2 separate regions of the Homo sapiens genome follow, and region 2 is linked to region 1. A link means that fine-mapping ties the variant in region 1 to the expression of a gene that starts in the linked region. Tissue or cell type: whole blood. Region 1 holds a variant in brackets; the other region holds the start of a gene. All regions are shown on one strand. Distances are from middle to middle.

What was found. PIP is the estimated chance that this variant, and not a neighbour inherited with it, causes the effect.
Region 2: SUSD6 starts here. The variant in region 1 is fine-mapped to the expression of SUSD6 in whole blood (TOPMed, PIP above 0.99).

Annotation. Positions count from the first base shown.
Region 1 is chr14:69,727,957-69,736,060 of GRCh38, forward strand. No RefSeq gene overlaps it. Among named protein-coding and RNA genes, the nearest start is that of SRSF5, 35 kb to the right of the region's middle. The variant G/A (reference allele first, on the strand shown) is at 4,708.
Region 2 is chr14:69,607,711-69,615,806 of GRCh38, forward strand. It overlaps SUSD6 (sushi domain containing 6), which reads left to right and starts at 3,886. Exons shown (of 6, transcript NM_014734.4): 1 at 3,886-4,118. RefSeq lists a silencer at 3,635-4,404 and enhancers at 7,770-7,819, 8,090-8,096.

The DNA of each region.
Region 1 (8,104 bases):
GCAGGAATGATGCAGGGAGACCACGCAGCGGGGAAGGGGGTGCAGAGCAGTTGGCTAGTGCTTTACAGAGCAAGTGCTGTTGGAGCTGGGTCTTGAACCAATAGTAGTTTGGTTGCCAGGCAGAAGAGATGGGCCAGGGGGAGAGGCCTTCTAGGCAGAGCTAACAGGTGGGCAATGCCCAGTTGTGAGTGGGGCCGTGAGGTTGGGGAGTTTGGGAGCCAGGTGTGGTTGGAAGGGAGGGTGTGGGGGAAAGGTGCTGTCAAATGGTCCAGACCTGGAGACTGTGGCTCTATGGTGAAGGGCTTCGAGAGCCATTCTCTTGGTTTGAAGTATCTTGTAGGTGGGCAACCGAGAAGGTTTTAAAGCATGTGCTAGGTGTCATAATTACCAGGGGTGGAGACGGTGCAACAGGCAGAGACCCATGAAACAGAGGTCCATAGAATATCCTACCTTATAAATAAAAATTATTATTATTTTTTGAGACAGTGTAGAACTGTGATCTGATCTGATACGTTCTGTCCTTTAATATCTGAGTTAAATATGTTATTGGCTCCCAATCCAGACCCCAAGAGAGGATTCTTGGATCTCCCGCAAGAAAGAATTCAGGGCCTGTCCACAGAGTAAAGTGAAAGCAAGTTTATGAAGAACGTAAAGGAATAAAAGAACGACTACTGTATAGACAGAGCAGTGGCATGGGCTGCTCGACTGAGTATATTTATAGTTATTTCTTGATTATATGCCAAACAAGGGGTGGATTATTCATTAGATTTCCAGGAAAGGGGTGGGAATTCCTGGAACTGAGGGTTCCTCTTCCTTTTACACCATATAGGGTAACTTCTGGACATTGCCATCGCATTTGTAAATGGTCATGGTGTTAGTGGGAGTGTCTTTTAACAAGGCAATGCATTATAATTAATGTATAATGAGCAATGAGGATGACCAGAGGTCACCTTCGTCATCATCTTGGTTTTGGTGGGTTTTATCCGGCTTCTTCTTCTTCTTTTTTTTTTTTTTGAGATGGAGTTTCGCTCTTGTTGCCCAGGCTGGAGTGCAATGGCCCAATCTCGGCTCACTGCAACCTCTGCCTCCCGGGTTCAAGCGATTCTCCTGCCTCAGCCTCCTGAGTAGCTGGTTTAGCTGGCTTCTTTACTGCATCCTGTCTTATCAGTGTGGTTTTTGTGACCTATATCTTGTGACCTCCTGTCTCATCCTGTGACTTAGAATGCCTAACCATCTGGGGATGCAGTCCAGTAGGTCTCAGCCTTATTTTACCCAGCCCCTATTCAAGATGGAGTCATTCTGGTTTGAACGCCTCTGACAAATATGTTTATCTTTCTTATAGTTATGAATACATTTGGATCTACCATTTTATTTTGTATGAGCTCTTTATTTTCTTCTTTTTACTTTTTCCTATCTTCTTTTGGATTAAAAATGTTATCAATTTTCTACAATTTCTATTTTTCCATTGGACGAAATCCGTAAGATTGTATTTTGATTCTTTTGGAAGTCAATGTTGGGACTCAGAAACTGGTATCCCAATGGTTCTTTGACATGCTGGACTAAAGAAGCAGGCTCATGATCTCTTTGACCTTCCCCCAACTCCTGTTTCTGAATTCTTTGTTTCTCTCAAAGCACAGAATGAGGCTATTTTCTGAAGTTTCCAGGTGCTTGGGAGTTGATAAAGTTTAAGAAAAAATTTTTAATGAAGTTCTCTTATCTACCTAGAAACCAGACCCCGAAATAGGACCACAATTGCCTTCCGTCCTCTCCCTGAAATCTCATTATCTCAGAAAAGCAAGACTGAAGAATGTAACCACACCTGGATGAACTTTTTCCCAAGACATTTATTTATTTAATTTATTTTTTGAGACAAGGTCTCACTCTGTCACCCAGGCTGGAGTAAAGTGGCCAAACATGGCTCATGCAGCCTCAACCTCCCAGGCTCAAGTGAGCCTCCTGCCTCAGCTTCCTGAGTAGCTGGGAATATAAGAGTGTGCCACCATGCCTAATTTTTGATATTTCTTGGAGACGGCGTCTCCCCATGTTGCCCAGGCTATTCTTGAACTCCTGGACTCACGCAATCCTCTCACCTCAACCTCCCAAAGTGCTGGGATTACAGGCTTGAGCCACTACGCCCAGCTTTTTTCACAAGATGATGTCTGCCTCTTGTGCGCATCCAAATTCCAAAGAGAATTATTTACAAGTTAATTTCTGTTTTCCAGGTCCATTCATTTCCCCTGAAAATCATTTATTCTTACACTCCGCACTTCCCTCTCCCTAATGAAGAGGGTATTTAAGTGTCAGTCCTTTGGCCCTGTACTTGAGTTTTCATATTTGTAGACTCCCATGCATGTGTTTTCTGTTGTTATTCTGTGTTTCATTATAGGAGTGTCTCCTGTGATTCTTTTTTTTTTTTTTTTTTTTTGAGACTGAGTTTCACTCTTGTTGCTCAGGCTGGAGTGCAATGGCGCGATCTCGGCTCACTGCAACCTCCGCCTCCCTGGTTCAAGTGATTCTCCTGCCTCAGCCTCCCAAGTAGCTGGGATTACAGGCATGCGCCACCATGCCCGGCTAATTTTGTATTTTTAGTAGAGACGAGGTTTCTCCATGTTGGTCAGGCTGGTCTCCAACTCCCATCTTCAGGTGATCCACCCGCCTCAGCCTCCCAAAGTGCTGGGATTACAGGCATGAGCCACTGCGCCCGGCCTTCTGTGATTCTTTATAATGAGGAGAAAAGAAATCATCCCCTTTCCGCCCCTACATCACCCAGCTTTTTCTTAAAAAAATTGAAGTTATTCATTATTTCTCTCCTCCTCCAAAATTTATAGGCATTGGCCTGTCTGTCCTGAAATTTTAAAAAATTTGACTTTTGTTATAAATTTCTAATTATATTGCATTATTATCAAATAATATAGTCTGAATAATAAGGATCCTTTGGAATTTGTAAAGGCTTCCATTATAGCTTACCAAATTGTTTTAAATGTTGAATATCTCAAAAAGAATGCATATTCTTTATCCCCAAGTATAAAGTGCTATATAGAGCTAATAGCTCAATCTTATTAAGTATATTGCCCCTATTTTTAACACCTCTGCTTGACCATAGAAGAGTCTGGTAATATTTCAAACTACAATTGTTGACTTACCTATTTCTCCCTGAAGTTTGTCAGTTGTTGCTTGCCCTATGCTCCTATCATAAACATGTGCCAAATGGATTTTTCATGTCTTTCTTTCGTTTTCATGCCAAGCTCTGTTCTTATTTGCTCCATTTGAATGGTTTGATGCTCAGGCACATGGTCCTCTTCCAAATTAAAATCAAAATGCTGGTGAAGGTTAGAAACAGATTTGGGTTCATAAAATGGTCAGGCACTGAAAAGGGATCTGGTAGTGAAGGACGGCCCTTGTTTCAGAATACGGGGAGAGCTTTCTGACATCTGTGGCCTCGTCCACTCACTGGAGTAGATAAAAACTGCAGATACTGCAACTCTTTCACCAGGTGGTGCAGTAAGCACACAGTTTGGAGTTCAGTCTACCCAACTACCTGGACAAGAACACAAGATTCCAGTAAGAAAAAGAAGGAATGGGGGGTTTTCAATGAAAGATGAGAGGTCCATAGCCAATACCCTGTGTGTGTGTGTGTGTGTGTGTGTGTGTGTGTGTGTGTGTGTGTGTACCAGGACCAGAACCTTATAACAGCAGAATGTGAGATCTGAACTGGATCCTCTGACTTGCTTGTTTTTTTCTTTCTTTTTTTTTTTTTTTTAAGACAGAGTCTCCCTCTGTTGCCCAGGCTGGAGTGCCATGGTGCAATCTTGGCTCACCGTAACCTCTGCCTCCTGGGTTCAAGCAATTCTTCTGCCTCAGCCTCCCGAGTACCTGGGATTACAGGTGCCCGCCACCACGCCCAGCTAATTTTTTGTATTTTTAGTAGAGACAGAGTTTCACCACATTGGCCAGGTTGGTCTTGAACTCCCGACCTCGTGATCTGGCCGCCTTGGCCTCCCAAAGTGCTGGGATTACTGGCGTGAGCCACCGCGTCCAGCCTGACTTGCTTGTTTTTACAGAGATAATCAATCCAGAGTGATGAAACAGACAAATGCTTTGGTCCATCCATCCATCCATCTATCCATCCATCCACCCATCCATCCATCCATCCACCCATCCATCCATCCATCCATCCATCCATCCATCCATCCATCCACCCATCCATCCATCCATCCATCCACCCATCCATCCATCCATCCATCCAGTATTTACTGAATGTCACCAAGGACTTGCCAAGGTCACATTGCTGTTTAGTAGCAGAAGTTAGTTGAGAACTAGATCACCTAGAGAGAAAATGCAAAATCTTAGAATATCTCCAGATTTTATTATTTACTTTTGGAAAGAGATTTTGGCATTCATTTAAATATCAATACATTTAATATTTTATTTTATTTATATTTATTTATTTATTTTAATTTTTATTTATTTTGTGAGACAGAGTCTTGCTCTGTCTCCCAGGCTGGAGTGCAATGGTGCGATCTTGGCTCACTGCAACCTCCGTCTCCTGGGTTCAAGTGATTCTCCTACCTCAGCCTCCTGAGTAGCTGAGATTACAGGAACCTGCCACCATGCCTGGCTAATTTTTGTATTTTTAGTAGAGACGGGGTTTCACCATGTTGGCCAGGCGGGTCTTGAACTCCTGACTTTAGGTGATCGCACACCTCA[G/A]CCTCCTAAAGTGCTCAGATTACAGGCATGAACCACCATGCCTGGCTTATTTTATTTCATTTTTTGAGATGGAGTCTCACTTTGTTGCCCAGGCTGGAGTGCAGTGGTGTGATCTTGGCTCACTGCAACCTCCACCTCAAGTGATTCTCCTGCCTCAGCCTTCTGAGTAGCTGGGATTACAGGCATGCACCACCATGCCCCACTAATTTTTGTATTTTTAGTAGAGACAGCGTTTCACCATGTTGGCCAGGCTGGTCCTGAACTCCTGACCTTGAGTGATCCAGCTGCCTCAAGCTCCCAAAGTGCTGGGATTACAGGCATAAGCCACAGTGCCCAGCCCTGTTTAATATTTTAGAAATTAACGGCAGCCAAAACAAATAAGAAAGCATACTGGGGTGTGTGGAGAGGGAAGGGGTGTGATGGGGGCGGGACTGGAAGCCCTTGGATCCTACTCGTTCTCCAAGGAAGCAGCTAACAGGTAGCACCTAAAGAGGCACAAACAAACAGATGTAGTGTGTGCAACTCAATTGGCTCCTGCATTAGGGGGAAAAGCAATTCTTGAAGGCATTTTTTGGGAAATTTGAATATGACAATAGGGGAAATTTGAATATGCATATGATATGATGGGATGTTAAAGAATCGTTGTTAATTTTCTTGCGTGTGATAATGGTGTTGTGGTTATGTAGGAGAGTGTCTTTATATTTGGGAGACACACGCTAAAGTGTTGAGGGGTGAAGTGTCATGATAATGCGACTGACTGTTAAACTGTTTAGCCAAACACACACGTGCACGCACACATACATACACAGTCATTAAAGCTAACGTGCCAAATGGGTAACAATTGCTGAATCTAAGTGGAGCGTGTTTATTGTACTGTTCTTTCAGCTCTTCAGGGTGTTGGGAAATGTTCATAGTTGAAAGCTGGATGGAGGCATGCAGCTCTTAGGAGATCCATACATACAGGTCCAGTTGAGAACCGTGTGCTGGGTATTTACAGGGGGTGACACTCCCTGAAGGTTAGAGAGAGGTGGCCTCTGACCCCTTCCTGCGTACAGGTGTGAGAGGCAGAGCACCTCACTGTAGTCTGGATCTGCCCACAATGCCCTGTGGGCACTGGGTAGATAAGAGGGGAGGGCAACAGGTTTCTCTTAGGAAAGGAACTGAAGGGGCCAGTCTGAAAAAGTGATCTCTAGAGTGTGACTTGCACATAGTAGATGCTTAATAAATCTGCCAGTATTGTCTCAACAGATGCTTATGGATTTTATTGACATTAGATGGTAAAACTGGAAACATAAGTGCCTGTTTATTAGTCTCTTCTACTACACCGGTGGATTCCTTTGAGGAGTTGGTCTGACAGTCCCCTGAGAAGAGGCAGTGGCTGGCTGTCAGTGCTGTCTTGGAAACCCCTTTCTCCCTTAGTTGCCTAGAAAAACCTCCATAAGGGGCAGTGCATCTCAACTGACCCCACTCTACCCTGGGATGAGGATGGCCAAAGCAGGTGGCCAGGGGAGCATGAAGGACCAAGAAGTGCTTGGTATACAGTAGGCACTCAGTGGCTATCCCCTGGGTGGTAACCAATCATTTGCTGAGTCCCTATTATGTGCCGGGCATGGTAGTCCTTTGCATCCTCCTCATGAACCTCATTATTCTGGTTTTACGAACATGTGAGAAGAAAGGGAACCAAGGATGGTAGGAAGTTCCTCCTGGAGCTGCAGAAAGAGAAAGAGGCAGAGAGAGGGCAAGGGCACAGGGGAAGGGGCAGCGGTTTGGGGAGCGAGTCAGACCAGCCTTCCTCGCAGCAGAAACGTACAAGAAGGAAAAGGTGTTGAGTCTGCCAAAGAGGAGGGGAAGCAATGACCTCTGTGTGAAGGTGGACAAGCAGAAGATGCAGATGCCTGGGTAAAGTCAACTCCAGCCTCTTTCTAGTCATGAGGTTTTGACCTGAGCTGGGTCTACTTAGGTCAATCCCCATGGCTGACCTAGGACAAAGCAGGCACTAGCCTTGAAGTTGCAAGACCTGGGCTGATCCCCATAGGCCTTGATAGCTGCATGACTTGTGGGTCAGTAGACAATCAGAGTGCACTGTCTGCAGGGAATTCACAAACAGTAACAAAACTGACTAAAAGTCACCCTGCCTTTTAGCAACACCTTGTGCTGGCAATTCTGAACAATGGCAGTGATAAAGGACTTCTCCCTGGAAGAACTCCATTGTCAGGCTAAGTTCTAAGCAATTGCTGCCATTACCACTGAATTTTAATAAAATATAGGTAAGCTTCAGACTAGCTCATTTTTATTAGTTATCTTTTATTTATTTATTTATTTGAGACGGAGTCTTGCTCTGTCTCCCAGGCTGGAGTGTAGTGGCATGCTCTTGGCTCACTGCAATCTCCACCCTCTGGGTTCGAGCAATTCTCGTGTCTCAGCCACTTGAGTAGCTGAGACTACAGGCACATGCCATCATGCCTGGCTAATTTTTGTATTTTTTGTAGAAATGGGGGGTCTCACCATGTTGCCAAGGCTGGTCTCAAACTCCTGGGCTCAAGCAGTCTTCCTGCCTTTGTCTCCCTACTTTGTTTTCCTACTTTGCCTCCCAAAGTGCTGGGATTACAGGTGTGAACCACCAGGCCTGGCTGTTTTCCCCTCTTTTGTAAAAAAACAAAACAAAACAAAAAAATTAATGTAATTAACAAATATTTAACTCATTATTTATTTCTGTATTGTAATATTTATTTTATGTTTTATTTTGAATTTTGCTTGGAAGGTTGTTTTTTCTTTTTAGATGGAGTTTTGCTCTTGTCGCCCAGGCTGGAGTGCAATGGCATGATCTTGGCTCACTGCAACCTCCACTTCCTAGGTTCAAGCAATTCTCCTGCCTCAGCCTCCCAAGTGGCTGGGATTACAGGCATGCACCACCATGCCCAGCTAATTTTGTATTTTTAGTAGAGACGGAGTTTCACCATGTTGGCCAGGCTGGTCTCAAACTCCTGACCTCAGGTGATCTGCCAGTCTTGGCCTCCCAAAGTGCTAGGATTACTGCGCCCAGCCTTGGATGGTTGTTTATACAAAGTTTAATACAAGAAAAACTTCACTGCCTATTTATTTTCTGGTCTTTTTTTTTTTTCTTTTGAGACAGAGTCTTGCTCTGTTGCCCAGGCTGGAATGCAGTTGAACAATTATACCTCACTGCAGTTTCAACCTCCTGGTCTCAAGTGATCCTTCCACCTCAGCCTCCTGAGTAGGTGGGACTACAGGTGCCACCACCATGCCTGGCTAATTTTTTTCTATTTTTTATAGAGACAAGGGGTCTCATGTTGCCCAGACTGGTCTCAAACTACTGGCCTCAAGTGATCTGCCCACCTTGGCCTCCCAAAGTGCTGGAATTACGGGTATGAGCCAT
Region 2 (8,096 bases), 120 kb before region 1:
TGTCTCTACTAAAAATACAAAAATTAGCTGGGTGTGGGGGTACGCACCTATAGTCCCAGCTACTCGGGAGACTGAGACAGGAGAATCCCCTGAACCTGGGAGGCGGAGGTTGCAGTGAGCTCAGATCATGCCACTGCACTCCAGCCTGGGCGACAGAGCAAGACTCCGTCAAAAAAAAAAAAAAAAAAAAGATTTATGCTGGAAATCTGGAAGGACCCAGGAATATTAGCTCAAAGAGCCATCTTAAGTCCTTTTAGAATAAGGCAGGGTCTGAATTGAAAAGTGAAAATAAAAAATTAGCTCTGGTTTAAAATTGATTGTTAGGTGGAAGAAACAAAAAATCAATTATAAAGGCCACATATTTGTATGATTCTATTTATAGAGAGTGCTCAGAATAGGCAAATCTATAGAGACAGAAAGTAGATTGTTGGTTGCCTAGGGAGGGAGGCAGGGAAGGTGGTAGGGAGGGAGGAAATGGTAGTGACTGCTGATGGGTATGGGAGTTTTTTTTAGGGTCATGAAAATGTTCTAAAATATTGTACGACTCTGTAAATATACTAAAAACCATTGAATTGTTCACTCTAAATGTACAATTGTACATGTGCAAATTTGTACAATTTGTAAAGTTATACAAAATAAATACAAATTTAAACTGTGAATTGCTGGTATGTGAATATCTCAATAAAGCTGTTAATTAATTAATTAATTTATTTAAGACACAGTCTCACTCTGTCGCCCAGGCTGGAGTGCAGTGGCGCAATCTCAGCTCATTGCAGCCTCTGCCTCCCAGGTTCAAGCAATTCTTGTGACTAGCCTCCCACATAGCTGGGATTACAGGCGTGCACCACCACGCCAGGCTAATTTTTATATTTTTAGTAGAGACGAGGTTTTGCCATGTTGGCCAGGCTGGTCTTGAACTTCTGGCCTCAAATGATCAGCCTGCCTCAGCTTCCCAAAATGCTGGGGTTACAGGTGTGAGAAAGCTGTTAAATTAAAAAAAAATCTTAAAAATTTTAAAGAATTTTATTTAAAAAAATCTATGATCCCTCCCACTTGAGAATGTCTAAGTCTAAATTATTCTTAACCTTCATCTTGTGAGATCTTTTCAATGGCAGAAAGATAATATTCACCCCAGGCCAGGAAGTACCATTCCATTTTGCGGGTGAGAAGAGCAAGGCCTATACGTAGAATGTAACAGGGGCTTTTCGTCAGCTGTACTGAAGAGGCCAGTGGAACTTCAGATAGGAGGGGATGAGAAGACAGGAAAGGCTGGTGAGCTGACATTTATAAAGGGAGGAGACTTGACCCTGATTCTGGCAATTCAAAGCAGAAGGAAATGGAAGCTAATCCCAGCTGTAACCCAGCTACTCGGGAGACTGAGGCAGGAGAATCCCCTGAACCCGGGAGGCGGAGGTTGCAGTGAGCTCAGATCATGCCACTGCACTCCAGCCTGGGCGACAGAGCAAGACTCCGTCAAAATAAATAAATAAATAATTAAATATTTAAAATGTTTAAAAATTTTAATTTAATACTTTTCTGTGGCACTTTGGGGCTCAACCAAAGTGCCACAGAAAAGTAGAAGCAGCAGCCTTGGGAAGATTCTGAAGGGTAAGTAGAGAAGGCCTTCAAGATTGAGGAAACAGCATGGGCACCTGGTTTGTGACAGGAATGGCTTGTTAGAGACCAGCAGGTGGTATGGGGAGGCTGGAGTGGGGTGTGTGGAGGGATGGAGAGCATTTGGGCCGGACTGTGGACAGCACAGGATACTACAGTCCTTGCTGATGACTTTGAGTTCATTCTGTGGACCCTGAAGGTCTGGGAGAGGATTTTTTTTTTTTGAGACAGTCTCACTCTGTCACCCAGGCTGGAATGCAATGGCACGATCTCGGCTCACTGCAACCTCTGCTTCCTGAGTTCAAGCAATTCTCCTGCCTCAGGCTCCTGAATAGCTAGGATTACAGGCATGTGCCACCACGCCTGGCTAATTTTTGTATTTTTAGTAGAGAAGGGGTTTCGCCATGTTGTCCAGGCTGGTCTCAAACTCCTGACTTCGTGATCTGCCTGCCTTAGCCTCCCAAAGTGCTGGGATTACAGGCGTGAGCTACCGCGCCCGACTGAGGATTTTTGGGTAGTGATGGACAGATCTGCATAGGGTCTCACAAGGGATTTTATAAGGTGGCAGTTCTTGTATGAAGTTACTGAGCCTCTTAATGGCCAAACTGACTTCAGTGCACAGCCAGGGGCTCAGTTACTTTGGCAGTTGATCTGACCTGAACCATCCATGCCTGCTTTCTTCCCTTTCCTTTCTTTCTTTTTCTCCTTCCTCCATTCATCTTCTCCAATTCTTCCTCCATCCCTTTCCCTTGCTTCCTTCCCCCTTGTCCCCTCCCTGAGCCTTGGGTCTGCCTGGCATGTTCCTGCTGCCCACACTGATTTGGTTGTGCTCTGAGGCAGACCCAGGTAGTTCTGAATTGTGCTTTTCAATCTTCTAGTGGTCTGGGCAGTGTGGCCCCAAATGAGCAGGAAGGGAGGGGTGCCCATCTTCTCTAATGAGTCTGGACCCAAGAAGGCAAGGAAGAAAGAAGGCAGAACAAGGATAGACTTATGAAAAAGGCATTATAGCAACGAGCCACAGGTTGCTGTGGGGCCCAGAAGGGAAGGGTTCTTTTGGGGATGGGTCTGTGTGCATGGGGAGGAGCATCCTGTTTATTTGGTTCAAGCTACTTCACAAGGACATGCCCTGTTAATTCACAGTGCTTTTCCCGAAAGCCTACTAGAACTAGGCCTGGTGAGAGGCCCTGAGAAGGTGTATCCTTTTGTCCAAGAGCATCTGGGAGAAGAGGCCTGCCTGACCCAAGCTGCAGCAAAGACACAAGTCTGTAGGTCCAGATGTGGACTCTACCACTGATTTACAAGTAGGAGTTCCTTAACACTTATGGAGGACCTCTGAGACCGACACGGTGCAAGGCCCTGGGGTACAAAGATAAAAAGCCAGAGTCCTCCCCATCAAGGCGCCACGGGCCCTGTAAACACATAAACCGAGGACACACTGCATGAGAGATCACCAATAAACGATGTAGCCATACAGTGCACAAACTGCTCACTCAGTATGTGCTAGAAAATAGCCCCAGAAGGCAAGGCTCAAGAGGGGAAATACAGTTAGGAATGTGGCAGGCTTCTAGCCCGGGCTCTGCCAGTCCTGGCTCTGAACTGCGGTTTTCTCAACCTTGAGATCCCTTGTGTGCTTTTAGTATGCTGAAGGATCACTCACTTCAGAATGCTAGTGAAAATACAGATTCCCAAGTCCGACCCCACTGAATCACAATGGCTGGAGGTCATTCGGGGCCCCGAATCTGCATTTTCACCCCCACCCACCCCCCGGGCAGCTTTAATGTTGGCAGGCTAGGAACCACAGTTCGGATTACTGCTTAACAGGGAGATAATAACCTGCTTCAGACGAGCTAGGTCAGACGAGCAATTCAAGAGCTAACAAGGCAACATGCGCCAAAAGCCTTGTAAACCTCAGGGCAGTACAATTCTTTGCAAATAATAGTAATTCAATCATGCAAATAATAATAATAGTAAACGAACTGGAGAGCGCACTGGAAACGCCGCATAGTCCAGCTGAGTCGGTGCCACCGCCCCATCCACTCCAGCGCAGAGGGACTGTCTCTTTAAGGACCCCCCACCTCCCCAACCGCGTCGCTTCTCCCTTGGGTACCTGGCCCGGCCGGCGGCGCGTGCGTGCAGGGCCTCCCGGCGGGGCGGTCGCGGCGGCGCGACGCCGGCGCCGTTGCGTGCGCGCCTGGCCCTGCCCCTTTCCCGCCCCTTCCCCGCCCCCTCCCCTCCGCGGGGCCTCCCCCGCCCGCGCGGTACAGCTGGGTCAGTGACGCGGGCGCTGCAGCCGTCGCTACCGCCGCGTTCTATTCTCCGAAGCCGGCGACCGCCCCACCTCCTCCCTCCCTCCCGCCCGCTTCCTCTGCCCACAGCGCCGGCCAGAGCGAGCTAGACAAGGGCACGCGGGGCCTCGCCTAGACCCGAGAAGACTGCGGGCGCGCGCAAGCGGCGGCGTGGAAGCTGTGAGCGCCCCCATCCCGGAGGTCTCCGCCGGCTCCCGGGTGAGTTGTCACCGCGGCCCGGGGGCGGCGGGGCCGGCATTGTGCCATCGACGCGCTCGGCCGGCTGTCAGGGGCGCGGGACCAGCGCGCACCGCCCAGGAGTGACGCTGGCCGGAGCCCGGGCCGGCTTCGGCGGCTCCCCGCGCTTCTCTGCGCCGGCCCGCTGTCACCCGGCCGCGAGCCGCGCCGCTGGGAGCCCCGCGCTGGCGTGGCGCGGCCAGCCGGCCAGCAGTGGGGGCTGCGCGGCCGGGGGGACCGGCGGCTGGTTTGCGGCCGGGAACTTGGTGACCCGCGGTCCGGGGCGCGCCGTCCCGCGTCGCTGCCCGGGCAGCACCGGAAGAGCCAGACGCCGTGCCGATGGGTGCAGAGGAGGTAGGCAGAGGCCCTCTGTGCCACTGTCATTACTGCCCTCAGCCCAGCAAAGCTGCGGGGCTTGCGCTGGGGCAGGGCTGGCTTAGAGAAGGTGGATTTCCTGAGGAAATCTCAGAGCCCGCCTGTGCGCACCGCGGCATTCGGGAGCCCCCGCGCCTCGGCTGCTCTTTAATCTCAAAAACTTCTCTTATTAACCAGGCTAAACTCCCCGAAACCAGCTATTTTCTTTCAAAAAGTAGGCACGTACATACAGACTTTCCTTTTTTCGCTTGGTTTTGAGACCCCAGCTATGAGTGTGGATCTGACTCTCCCTCATGGGAGTCGTGGCTGGGGAGCTGCTGAAGTGGAGAAAAGTTACCCTGGACGAATTTAGGAGCAGGAGGGGGAGGTGGTTATGGGGACAGCAAGACCCAGGAGCAAAGAGGCGTCAAAATAAAGTCTTGGGCTGGTTAAAGGGAAGTTGGCGTCTGGGCAAGGAGGCCTAAAGCTGTTGTTCCCACAGAATTTTCTTTCAGTGGCAGGCGACATGCTGGGCTTTGTTGCTCTCGCTAACTGGGCTCCTGTGTGCTCTTCCAGAGGTGCAGTAAGATTACTCAGTTCAATTAGGCCTAGGGATTTACTCCCTTTTTTGATCTACAGAGATGGGAAGTATGTCTTTCCTTCACAGTAGTTAATTCATTTCTTGCTGTTTTCGTTCCTCTGGTGTAAAAACATACATAGGAGTTACGCACACACACCTTTTCTGTTTTGGGAATTCCACACCCAAACTGTCACCATCTAGTGGAGGCTAGTAGAGACATGTGCTTGGCACTGACTTCTGAGTTCTCTGGGTTTTGTGTTTTTAGCTAGAAGCATATTCAACCAGAAATTAAAATTTTCCTGGAGTTGGGGGAGGTATGTCTACATCTCAGGAAAGAAGGTATTTAAGCAGCAATAATATGGAAAGGTTCTTGAGGACTTACTGAGTACCAACCTTTGTGCTAAGGGCTTTACTTTTTTGAACTCATTTAATAACAGACTTTTGATGTAGATATTATTATCCCCATTCTTCTAGTTGAGACCCAAACCAAACAAGTTAAATAACTCGCCCATGTCACATAGGTATCTCATGGTGGAGCCCACAGTCTGAACTACTAGATTATACTGCTAGTTTCTGGTTTGTTTACCTTTTGATAAAATTGAACCTGGAGTCTTTCTAAAACCTTCTGAAAGCACTGCTGCTTCAGGCTGTTTCTCAGATCATGAGCATTCTAAACTCTTTCTCCTGGGTACACACTTACGGTATGTTTGCATAAGATTCATTTGTTCATTCTTTCATTCAGTACTCCCAAGTAGTTATGTGATACCGAATGTATGCCAGGCACTGTGCTAGGTATTGCAGGTACTGCATTGAATAAGTCAGAATCCAGCTCTCATGGACTCACAGCCTTTAAGTCCATTTGTTTTGGTTTATGTTGTTAGCTTTCATTGCTGGCCATTTGCTGCTGAAGGAACTTCTGCCCAGCGAGTTAAACAGAGGACAGTATTGGTATGAGTCCTGATAGATAGGACTTCCTGTCTGCAGAGTAATTTTTTGGATACTGTAGTAGAAATGGCATATGAAACAAATCCTCACTTACACCTAGATAGAGACAGGTGCCAGGGTGCTCAGTGTTTAAACCCTGAGAGCAAACCCACTGTCAAATGGGCAAGTTTGACTTCTTTCGCTGAAGCCTGCCTTCTGAAAGCCCAGAATTTGGTGAGATAGAAGAGAAAGAAGGGTAGAATGAGGTGTTACAGATACAGGCTGGCAGATAAAGAGACCTCAGCACTTTGTCTGTTTTCCTGGTCAGTCTCTGAGGTGTGGTGATTGAACTTGTGTTCTTTTTTATTTTTTATTTTTTTTGAGATGGAGTCTCGCTCTGTCACCCGGGCTGGAGTGCAGTGGCACGATCTCGGCTCACTGCAACCTTCACCTCCCAGGTTCAAACGATTCTCTGCCTCAGCCTCCTGAGCAGCTGGGACTACAGGTGCGTGTCATCACGCCTGGCTAATTTTTGTATTTTTAGTAGAGACTTGGTTTTACCATGTTGGCTAGGCTGGTCTCGAACGCCTGACCTCAGGTGATCTGCCCGTCTTGGCCTCCCAAAGTGTTGGGATTACGGGCGTGAGCCACCGTGCCCGGCCTGAACTTGTGTTCTTATGTAATGTTGCATCTCTCAGTAGGGGATGTCCTCCTTTGCTCTTTTGGTGGGGCAGCAATTCCTGCAGCAGCCTTCCCTCTACATGCACACACACACCCCTTCCAAAAGGTAATAATTCACCTGGTTTCTTTAAAGTTAGAACTTCTTTCAAGTTTATTGCTACTAAGCATTGTTTCACTCCCTCCACACTTGTCCATTTCCCACATAAAAACTTGGCTTTTGCTTCAAATATTTTCTTCTGCCCTTTTTTCATATCCTTAGCTCTTCTGACAACCAAGTTACTACTGGTATCATTTGTAGGCTGGGAGAAATACAGCATCTTTAAAAAAAAATAGTGAGGTACATACTCTTCCTCATTTCAGTACCAAACAAGTGAACTGTGGAGAATGAAGCAGAACCACTTGCCAGCAGAGAGGGAAGGCCAGAGGGCACACGTGGTTGTCTTTCCCCTCTAGTTCCCCATTTATTAAGAGACAATTCACACTTGCAGGCCCGAATGTCAGCAGATCCATTGGGCCCAGGTTGTGTAATTGCCATACATGAAGTGAGTTATTAAGCTCCTGAAATGACATGCTATCTCCTAGTTGAAGCTGACAAGCAGGATTTATTTTCCCTCTTCTTTCTGTCTGGACACTATGGAAGTCTTGTTAGAGGGTGTTCGCTCAAGCAGTGGGAGAAAGATCAGAAGGAGCCAATAGAGGAGGGAGCCCCATGTCTTGTCTTCTTTTCAACTTTGAGAGCAAACATTGCTTTGTTGCAGACTTGAATGTTGAGGATTAGGACATTTGGTTAAATGTAAGCTTTGGGACAAATGCAAAACTAGGGGAAATAGAGACTCTTTCCCCAGGTTTCTCACGAGCTCCATAGTACTCAGGAACCTTTGGGTGGACTGTCCTTGCGCGTCAAGATCTGTTCACTCCACCCCTGGCTTGGATTCAAGGCAACAGCCATTGTGTGTCCCTTGGATGAGTGTAAGTTTGTGTTTCTGTGTAAGAACCTTTCATCTTAAAAAGTACAAGTTCTGGGGAAAGGTGCCTCTTACAAGGCTTAGGTTTTCGCAGCAGAGCCTGTTAGGCACCTGTGTTCTTCTTGGGCTGATGTGTCTGCGATGGTGTCCTTTTTCTTCCCTTTTTAGTTTTTTTTGGCCTGGAAACCAGCAGGGTGCCTCCATTTGCTCTCTCATCCTCTGGTTCTTACTTGAGTGTGGAAGTCGCTCCACTGGTGGACCTTGCAGTGGCACTGAGCTGGGTCACTTCAGCCGTGAAAGGCCAACTGTACTACTGTCAAGGCTTGGGACAGTTAAGCGTCCGTGAAGGTACTGGATACAGCGACAGCAGGAAGTGCAGCAGTGAGAACTGAAACTAATTTCACAGACTGTGGTGTTGCCTGTGATGTAGTCTCCCTCCCTGGCTCTTCTATCTCA